Regions from separate parts of the Homo sapiens genome. Here region 2 is linked to region 1. Evidence: fine-mapped expression QTL. Tissue or cell type: whole blood. Region 1 holds a variant in brackets; the other region holds the start of a gene. All regions are shown on one strand. Distances are between the middles of the regions. Region 1 overlaps FHIT (fragile histidine triad diadenosine triphosphatase). Region 2 holds the start of FHIT (fragile histidine triad diadenosine triphosphatase).

Evidence for each region. PIP is the estimated chance that this variant, and not a neighbour inherited with it, causes the effect.
Region 2: it holds the start of FHIT, and the variant in region 1 is fine-mapped to the expression of FHIT in whole blood (TOPMed, PIP 0.92).

What each region holds. Positions count from the first base shown.
Region 1 is chr3:60,277,654-60,283,196 of GRCh38, forward strand. All of the region lies in intron 5 of FHIT (fragile histidine triad diadenosine triphosphatase), which reads right to left. It overlaps LOC107986015 (a long non-coding RNA gene), which reads right to left. Exons shown (of 2, transcript XR_007095935.1): 2 at 1-5,543. Among named protein-coding and RNA genes, the nearest start is that of MIR548BB, 340 kb to the right of the region's middle. The variant T/G (reference allele first, on the strand shown) is at 2,662.
Region 2 is chr3:61,249,528-61,254,527 of GRCh38, forward strand. It overlaps FHIT (fragile histidine triad diadenosine triphosphatase), which reads right to left and starts at 1,925. Exons shown (of 10, transcript NM_002012.4): 1 at 1,774-1,925. LOC124909387 (a long non-coding RNA gene) reads left to right here and starts at 2,065. Exons shown (of 2, transcript XR_007095939.1): 1 at 2,065-2,100. RefSeq lists enhancers at 514-793, 1,074-1,203, 1,344-1,473, 1,604-1,663, 1,728-2,022.

The DNA.
Region 1 (5,543 bases):
CACCGCCTCCTCAAGCCTGCCTATAAACTCCAATGCACTCTGCCACAGGCTGGAAGTCTCATTCAGGCACCCTTTTCTCTCTCAAGAGAGAAAGCTGTTCTCCTTTCTCTTTCTTTTGCCTATTAATCCTCAGCTCCCAAACTCACTCCTTGTGTGTGTGTGTCCCTGTCCTTAATTTTCCCGGCATGAGATGACAAATCTCGGATATTATCCCAGCCAATGACACTGCTTCACTGCAATTTGCAACAAGAAAAATATTTACGACAAGGAAAAAAGATGAACCAACTGGAAATTAATGACTTTTTTAGATTCAGCAGAGAACTGAGGTCCAAAGCAAACTAGTATCCCCAAATTTGGAGAAACATGTAAACACAAAGAATCATAAGATCAGATTACCTAAAGCAAAAACAGAAGGACCTAGGAACTGATACGAACACGTGTATGATAATTTTGACAAATTGCTGGAGGCTCAGTGCAGACTAGCTTGAGAGTTAAAAACTCTTGCAGCCTAGTCTTAGGGGAGACTATACTTTTCTGAGTTTTATGTCCAAGAACCCTATCATGTTCTCATGGGGAAGTCTGGAGAAAAATCTCAGGGAAGAGAAAAAGTAACCATTTTGGAAGTTTCCCAGATTGTTCTCTGTAAGAAAGACACGTCCTTTCAGGGAAGCTATTTTACCAGAGTTCTATCTGACTTGGGAGAAGGGCAATTAGTCCCCTCCAGACTCTTTTAGCCTTCCTGTCTAATGTCAGGGGACGAAAAAAGGGCTCAGAACATTTCAGAAGATCGCAGCCTAGAAACTCAGGCTCACTAAGAAAACTGAGATGTAATCATAATATACAACAATTATCCTTCCTGAGACCTCATCACCACGTGAAGAGGTCTTTGGTGATTACAACTGAGAGGTGAAACACACAGACTCTATTGAATAAGGAGCTCTTAGGAAAGCCCAAAGACAACAGGGAAGACAAAAAATACGAGCACACAGAAGCATCTGGAACTTAAAGCTACAGCAAGCATTAAACACAGTCCAGCTCTAAGCTAGATTAACATAAAACCTCATAACAAAAAAAAAAATTCTTAGTTCCCATCACTCGAGGTATTATTTCCAGCTTTCAACAACAAAAATAAGGCATGCAAAAAGAAATTTCTTAAAGATAAACTTTAAACTATTTTAAACTAAATAAAAATGAAAATAGAGCTTAGCAAAATTTGTGGAATGCAAGGAAAACAATGCTTTGCAGGAAATTTAAAGAACTGAACACATATATCAAAAAAGAAGAAAGATCTAAAATCAATAATCTAAACTTCTGTTAGAAACCCACAGAAAGAAAAACAATTTAAACCTAAAGCAATCAGAAGAAAAACAGAATAGAAATTAGAGCAGAAATCAATTACATTGAAAATAGGAAATCAATCAGAGAAAAATTAACAAAACCAAAAGCTAATTATTTTCAAAAGATCAATAAAATTGCTAAACCTCTAGTCAGGCTAACCAGGAAAAAAAGAGCAACAATACAGATTACTAACATTAGAAATGAAAGAGGGGTCATCACTACTGATCTCACGGATATTAAAAAGATGATAAAGAAATATGATGAACAACTCTGTGATCTCAAATTTGATAACTTAGATAAACAGAGGCAATTCCTTAAAAGAAACAAACTACCAAAACTCACAAAAAGAGAAATAGATAATCTGAATAGGTCTATTCAGGTTATATCTATATCTGTATCTTTTTAAAACATTGAATCAATAATTAACTTTCTAAAAATAAATAATAAATTGGGTCCAGACAATTTAACTGATGAATTCTATCAAATATTTAAGCACAAAATGATAGCAATTCTCTACAACCTTCTTTAGATAGGTAAAGCAGAGGGAACACTTCCTAAGTCATTATGTTATACCAGCATTACTCTATAGCAAAATCAGAATACACGTGCAAACCCCATTAAAAGAAAGAAAAACTAGAAATTAATATCGCTCGTGAACATGATATAAAAAGCGTCAACAAAATCTTAGCAAATCAAATCTAATAATGTATAAAAGTTATTATATACTACAACTAGGATTTATTTCAGGTACACAGCTGGTGGAACGTTCAAAAACTCAACAAACATTCCTAGCACTTTGGGAGGCCGAGACGGGCAGATCAGGAGGTCAGGAGATCAAGACCATCCTGACTAACACAGTGAAACCCCGTCTCTACTAAAAATACAAAAAAATTAGCCAGGTATGGTGGCAGGCACTTCTAGTCTCAGCTACTTGGGAGGCTGAGGCAGGAGAATGGCGTGAACCTGGGAGGCGGAGCTTGCAGTGAGCGGAGATCGTGCCACCGCACTCCAGCGTGGGTGACAGAACGAGACTCTGTCTCAAAAAAAAAAAAAAAAACAATAGAAGAAAACCAAACAACAAAAAAAACTCAACAAACGTAACTTAGCGTATCAACTGGCCAGAGAAGAAAAATCATATAATAGCAACAGATACAGAAAAGCACTGACAAAATCCCACACTCATTTATGAGTAGAAACTCTCAGCAAACTAGGAATAGATGAAACTTCGTCAACTCGATACCAAAAAATCTACAAAAAAACCTACAGCTAACATGACATCATACTCAATGGAGAGAAACTGGATGCTTTAAGATCAGTGTAGTA[T/G]AGTAGGCTGACTAATGATCTCCCAAAGATATCAGGTCTTAACTTTTAAAACATGAAAATGTTACCTTCTTTGAAAGAAAGGACTTTGTAGCTGTAACTAAATTAAGAATTTTAAGGTGAGAAGATTACCCTAAGTTATCTGAGTGGGCCTTAATGCTATCAATCATAAATATCCTTATAAGGTAGAGGCAAAGGTGAAATAACACAGACTCATCAAGAAGCCAGTGTGACCAGGAACACAGAGATCACTGTCACACCCACACCCACAACCCAAAGAATATATGGAGCTACCAGAAGCTGTCAAGGAATGGATTTCCCTCCACAGCTTCTGTGGGAGTACGGCCCTGCTGACACCTAGATTTTAGACTTCTGGCTTTCAGAACTGTCAGGGAAGAAATTTCTATTGTTTGAAGCTACCAGTCTGTAATAATTTGATATAGCAAGCTACTGAGAACAAGGCAAGATTTTCCCCTGTTAATACTCCTATTCAACAGCATAATGGAAGACCTAGGTAAAAGTAAGACAAGAAAAGGAAAGAATATTAAGAAAAAGATATAACGATTGGGAAGAAGAAAATAAAACTGTTTTTGCTCTCATGATATGGCTGACTATGTAGAAAAATCCTAAAAAATTGACAAAACATTCTCTAGAACAAATAAGCAACTGCAGCAATGTTTCAGGATAAAATTTTTCTTTTATCCTGAAAAAAACAGGATAAAATATTTCTTTCCAATATGCCAGAAAATAACAAATGGAAATTGAAATTAGAAGCACAATATCACTTATATTAGCGTAAAAAATAAAACACATAGATGTAAAAATCTAACAATATATGTACAGGATCTGTAAGGAAATATAAAAAATTCTGATGAAAGAAATAAAATCTAAATAAACGAATAGATATTCTGTGTTCATGGATAGGAAGACTTGATACTGTTATCGGTTCTTCCCAACTTGATTATACATTCAACGCAGTTTCAGTCAAAATCCCAGAAAGTTATTCTGTGAATATCAAAAAGCTGATTGTAAAGTTCATAGAGAAGGGCTCAAGATCCAGAATAGCCAATAAAATATTGAAGAACAAAGTTGAAGGAGTGATACTACTCAACTTTAAGACTTGCTACAAAGCTACAGCGATCAAGACAGCATGGTACTGGTGACAGAATAGGTAAGTGAATCAAAAGAACAGAAGAGGAAATCCAGAAATAGACCAATACAAACATAAACAACTTGCCCTGGACAGAGGAGCAAAGGCAATTCAATAGACAACAAATAGTGCTAGAATAACTGGACATCCATATGCCAAAAAAAAAAAAAGGGGGGATCTACACACAGACCTTACACCTTTTACAAAAATAAACTCAAAACGCATCACAGAACTAAATGTAAAATGAAAAATGCAAAATGTAAATCCTCTGAAAGATAACACAGGGAAAAATACTAGATTTGAGTTTGGCAATTTGTTTATAGATATAACAACAAAAAATTATCTACAAAAAAAATTTTAAATTGAATTGTATTAAAATTTAAAACTTTTGCTCTACAAAAAATACTGTTAAGAGAATGAAAGGACAAGGCACAGAATGGTAGAAAATATTAACATCATATGTCATTAGGGGATTACAAATTAAAACAATGACATACCAGTATATACCTATTAGGATAGCTAAATCCATAAGACTGATAATACCAAATATTGGCAAGAAAGTGGAGTGATGGGAACGTTCATGCATTGTTGGTGGAAATAATGGTAAAATGGTATAGCCACTTTGGACTACAGTTTTACAGTTTCTTATAAATCTAAACATAGTTTCACCACAGAATGCAGTAACCAAGTTCCTAAGCATTTACTCAACTGAGTTGAAAACTAATGTTCACACAAAAGTCTGCTTAGGGAAGCTTATAGAAACTTTATTCATAATAATCTGTCTTTCACAACACGAGAATGTATAAACAAACTGTGGCAAATCCATACGACAGAATACTAGTCTACAATTTTTTCTTTAAAAGAACTCTTATGCCATAAAAAGGTGTGGAGGCACCTTACAGACATACTGCCATATGACATTATGGAAAAGGGAAAACTATAGAGGCAATAAAGGGATTACTAGTTACCAGGGATCCAATATAGTTTCTTAGGGCAATGTAGACTATTCTATACGAAACTGTAATGGTGGATACACGACAATATGCATCTGTAAAACTCCATAGAACCACAGAAGGCCAAGAGTGAACTTTAAAGTAAAGTATGAACTTCAGTTAATATAAATGTGTCAATATTGGTTCATTAACTTCAGTAATAAATGTGCCACACTAATGCAAGGTATTAATAGTAGGAGACACTTGGTGGTGGGGCGGGGATGGGGGAATAGTGGCGACACGGAAGGAAAATGTTATGGTAAGTCTCTCAACTATCTGCACAATTTTTCTGAAAATCTAAAGCTGTTCTAAAAAATAAAGTATTTTAATTTTATTTTAAAAAGTACATCTTAGAAAACATACCTAGGATGATCTCTAGGCTCTGGATCCAGAAACCCCTATTTCAAACAAGTAGGAAGATTCTTATGGCTGCTAAGATATCAGCAGTCCATGGTTTCAGGAATACAGAGCCCCAAGGTGAATACAACAACCAGACTGAAATAAGTGCAGTTCCAAGAATGGAGCTTAAACTGGAAAGACTAGAGAGCAGCTGGCTAGCTGTTTAGAGGTAACAGATGGCAGAACCCTCAGGATCAAGTCATCCTGAATGAAGAAAGACCTTTGGAGAGTGCACACTTGAGTAAATAGCGGCCTCTGTTCATGTTCTCCAGTAACAAAGAAATAAACTAATTAGATGGCATTCATAAGCAAGCTAAAATTCCTTTCACTGGAAATCTGGAAAG
Region 2 (5,000 bases), 970 kb after region 1:
CTTTCTCTAAGCAGAGACTGTTAAGCAGAAGGGCTTACAGTCTCAGTCCTTTTATTCACCAGTGTTTTAACTTGAACAAGTTACTTAACTTTCCTAGCCTTAGTTTTCTAATCTGTAAAGTTGATATAAAAATGGTTCTCACTCTCATATAGCTTTTAAGAGGATTAAATTATAACACATATATTTTATTGAATATATATTATATTGCTAGCTGTGTAATCATGGGCTATCTTCTCAAGTTTTTTCTCATATACAAATGGGAAATGTAGTATTAAAAAGAGATCATGTGAACAGGTTCTAAATGGTCAAGTGTTAGTGGTTTTGGAAGCATGTACGTTAATACTTGGAACACCGTATACAACAATCCCATATCTAACACTTAGAACAGCATATGCAATCAATAACAACACACACACACACACACACACACACACACACACACACACACACACACACACACACAAACCCTAGACTTCTTTCTTTACTAAATATTTCTAGTCCAGGTTGCAGCAGGTGGACACAGGCCGGCAGCCATGAACGCAGGTCCACATGGGAGTTGTAGTTCCGAGTCAAGCGGCTGCTCTACAGAACGGCTAGAAGCGAGACTTCGTCTCCCAGGAGACATCTCGCCGTGCAAAATGGCACGCCACGAGGTGGAGTACCTGCCCGACGAGAAACAAGAGGCGGGACTGCAACTCCCAGAAGCCTCCGCGGCCAAGGCCTCAGGCCGCAGGCTGAAGCCAAGGAGGGAGAGTTCAGGTAGATCCGGCTTAACATCAGGTGCGAGTAGGGACCACCCTTGGTAGTCTGGGCCCGGCCCAGGTCAGAACCTTACTAAAACAACCACTGTGAGTATTTTCTATTGGTCCCAGCACATTTCTGAGAGACCAGAATAATAATAGCAGTAAATCTGCAAGTGGTAAACTTTCACAAGCATAACCTCAATTTAGATTTCGGCTTCAGGCAACATCCTTTGGCCACTTGACCTGGGAGCATTGAGCTCCTTGTTTCCCAGATAAGCGCTGTGAGTGGCTGTTCCAAGGTAACACAGCGAGGGCAGAATGTGAGCCTACAGAGAAATCTGCAGATGCATCTCAAGTTCCACTAACCTGCCTCCTTACCCCCCACCACCACCAACTTGGATATACCTTTAAAATTCCCCCCTTTGACGCTAAAAATAAAAACAACAACCATAAAATAAGTGTAAGAAAGTCCGACCAAGTACCGATGAGTTCTCCCACAACAATAAATTCGATGCCTCTTTGCCTGTTTTTGAAGTAGTAATGTAAAATTATCTCCCAAAATGCTGCCTTCTCTATACTCCGGTTTGCTCCTGTCCTGGGCACGTGTTCAGCAACCCCTTAGGGGAATCCAGAGCTGCGTGTTTAACACAGACCTGTTGGGACGGATTTTCGCTACTTGTCTATGAAACTGACGAACCATCCCAAAACGGCGGGTGCCGACTACACCCCCAGAGCCAAGAGCTGTGGCGTCCCCGGACCCGCTGGCGTGGCCCCGTGCCTCAGTTTCCCCAATGTATAAACACGGTGGAGGAGGAACGGGTTAGGGCTAGGGTCGGTGCTTGGGAATTGGGGGGCCCGAGTCCCCACCCTGAGACCCTCGTGGGGCGGAAGAGTACTCGGGACAGAAGCCCACCGCCCCGTGAGCGGCGCCGGCCCCACTGGGCTCCGGGGTGATGACCTGACGCGCGTGGAAACCCAGACCCGCGCCCCAGAAACAGTATTCCACTTGGGCTTGCCTCCCCGCCCCTACCTTCCAGGATGTTGACAGCTGGGAATGAAAGGCAGAGGGAGGGAGCGCGGGGCCGGAGCGCCGCCTGGGAGTGTGCCCACTGGGTGGCCGCCTGAGGGACCCGGGAACAGAGGGCAAAAAGTCCTGTGACCGGACAGAGCAGAGCGGGGACTGCAATTCCCAGAAGACCCCACGGTAGGGGCGGGACCCAAGATGGCCGCTTGTCTGGGGACAGGAGCGGAGGCCAATACGCGCAGAGCATGCGCCTACGCCGGGCCAATTGAAAGCCATAGTGACAGTAACCCTGATTCAGGGGCGGGAAACACTGACCACAGAAGACAAGTTGAGGTGAGAATCCCCTTACAAGGGGGTTTGGGGCATAAATCGCACAATCTTTGGCTTTTTCTAACTAGAAAAAGAAACATGATTCTTTTCACGTGTAACGAAAGGCTGTACCGCACTTTTGCTTTTTTCTTTCCTCCCAAAACGCGTTTAACTATCCCTTCACGACTTCCCACTGGCTGGATTTCTTTTCGTTTCATTTCCCCACTCTGGATCTTTCTGGATTCCTTAAGCCTTCTTTTCTTTATGTGTCTCTCAGAAACACAGACTTGCAGTCCCTGGCTTGATCCATCAAATAATGTGGTCATTTACGACTACGCTCAGCCCTCCCTGGCATCCTAACAAAATTGCACCACATGCGCCCCTTCTCTTTTCCTTTCTGTCTTTTCTGTGCTGTTTTTCTCCTTAGCATTTGTCGTTACGAAGCATTGTATAAAATTTACGTATTTATCTTTTTTACCATCTTACTTTCTCACTAGAATGCAAGATCCCTGCAGATGTGGATTTTTGTTTTGGTCACTGTAGTCTTTCTAGCACCTAGAAAAGTGCCCAGCACATAGTAAATACACCGTATTTTCAATAATTGAACGAAATCTAGAGTGACCTTTCTCCCCTAGTCTCCCTTTCTCTGGTGCAGATCAACCCGTTTCTGACCACCATGGTTCCTTGTGCTTGTTCCCCTGTTTAATCCAAAATCATTATTGATGTATTCTGTGCCAAATGCCATGTGGGTGCTGGAGAAATCATTGATTCAGACCCAATTCCTAACCTCAAAATGCTCTGTCTAGTGACGTATGAAAAGTAAAATTAATTTTACAATAAATGCAATTACAAATTGCAGAACACCTACGTAATTTTCACAAGGTCATGCAGCTCCTAAGCAAGGACTAGATTCCTGGCTGCAGACTCTTGCCATTACATCGGGAAAAACAAAGAGCAGTTTTCTCTCAGACAAACACTAAGATAGGTCCCCATTTTCCTTAGCACCATTTCCTTTCTCTGTCTCTCACTTTTTTATTTGGCCTGATTCATTACATGCAGGCAATTACATCAAGTCTTAGATCTCTCATTATTTCTAATATTTGAATCCCATGGAGAGTAGCAAGGTGTCCTACAAAGTGTCCTGGTGTGAAAATCTGATGTCCTTGGAAGCTTGACTCTCAGAGAATGTCACATTGGATTATAGTTCATCACACAGACACCATGGCCACATAAAATATTATCAAATTGTGAATAACAAAGTGAAATTGAAAAAAAAAATATAGTTAAAACAGCAGGAATGTGAGCAATATATGTACAGACTGATTTTGTGCATAGAGATTAAAACACCTGTTCAGGCTTCCTAGCCTAATCTTCTGTCAATTTGGGGTCATTTCCTGTAATACAATTCTTTGTTGCTTTTATGAGCACAGACTTAGCTCAGCAGTCCCAGCTATTCTCAAGCTGATCGACATGAGAGATTTCAACACATGTGTCAGCAGCCAGACTAAACGTGGAAGAAAATCAGAAGCATTTGAAACTGTAAAGCTCAATAACTTTCCTCCTCCTGAGAAAGCATCAGCCTATAATCATTACATCTTCTACTTAGCAGTCAAAAGGCAAATGTCATGAACATACTCAGGGTCTAAACAGTGGTGTCTAATGATTATTGCACTGTTGTCAGATAGCCTAATATGAGCACATAGGTATTACTTCAGCTGTGGATAATGCTGACTGCTGGGCTCAAGGTCACCCACGACCTTGAGCAACAGATACATTCACAAAGAGCATGAAGACATAGAACTTGCATTGGATTCAGGACCTTCAAGTGCCAAGACAATCAGTGGGAGGTTACTGTCTGATCTGCAACTTGACTGAATTAATAACCACCTTAGTATGGGTTCTCCCAGAAGCAGATCTGGAGACAGGTATTCAAGAGCAAGTATTTTATTTAGGAGGTTATCGCAGGAAACACCAGTAAGAGACTAAGAAAGTGAAATAGGGAAGAGAAGACCAAAAAGATGCCTTATCTAGCACATTACCGCTAGAGGCACCCAGAACTTAATCCTCCTAGAAATCTCTGGGAAACAATATGGAACATGTACCTTAGACTGAGTGATTCCACCAAGAGGACAAGATAACTGGGTTGTTTAAACACCAACTACCGTCAGTCAATGATTGGGGGCAGCTTTCAGGGATTATTAAGACCCTGGCTTGTCTGCAATGCTCCAAGAGTAGACAGAGTTGCCTCAGTGGCCACAGAAAGCCAGAGATAGAAGAATTAAGAGTCACATTGGTATACGCTGAAATAGTAAGGGAATATAGCATACTGGCGGGGCACCAATAATATCTGCTACAGGTGGCTTTGGTTTACCACAAGCTCATGTCACTGAAACTAACAGAATAAGAATAAGTCAGAAACTAAGTAGATAAATACAAAAAGCCCAAGCAGCCTACCACCTTCTATCACTCATCAACAATTAAGATAGATTGTACTTTCTAAATCCTCACTAAGACATACAAACCAAACAATAGCAGAAGCCTCATTTACACTGGGGAATAGGAACTCTTTGGGCATTTAAGGAGGGTGCTTTGGGAGCTTTGGGGCATGGTAGTGCAAGGAGAAAGAAGATTAAGAAAAGGGGAAAAGGACATTTAAAGAAACGTGTTAAAAACATTGTGTTTTTCATTTTATGGTCTTGAAACATGAGTAAAGGGTGTGGATATTTTAAGAAGGTAGCATCAAGATCTGGGTGACTTTTAGACCCAGAAGACAATTTTGTGAAAGACTTCTGTGGATTGTGCCATTATAGTACTTCTTCATAGCAAATATCTTTACTTGAAATTATACCCACATTTATTTGTCCTTTTGTTTATCATCTGTCTCCTTCAAACAAAAGGTAAACTCCATGAAGGTAAGAACTTTG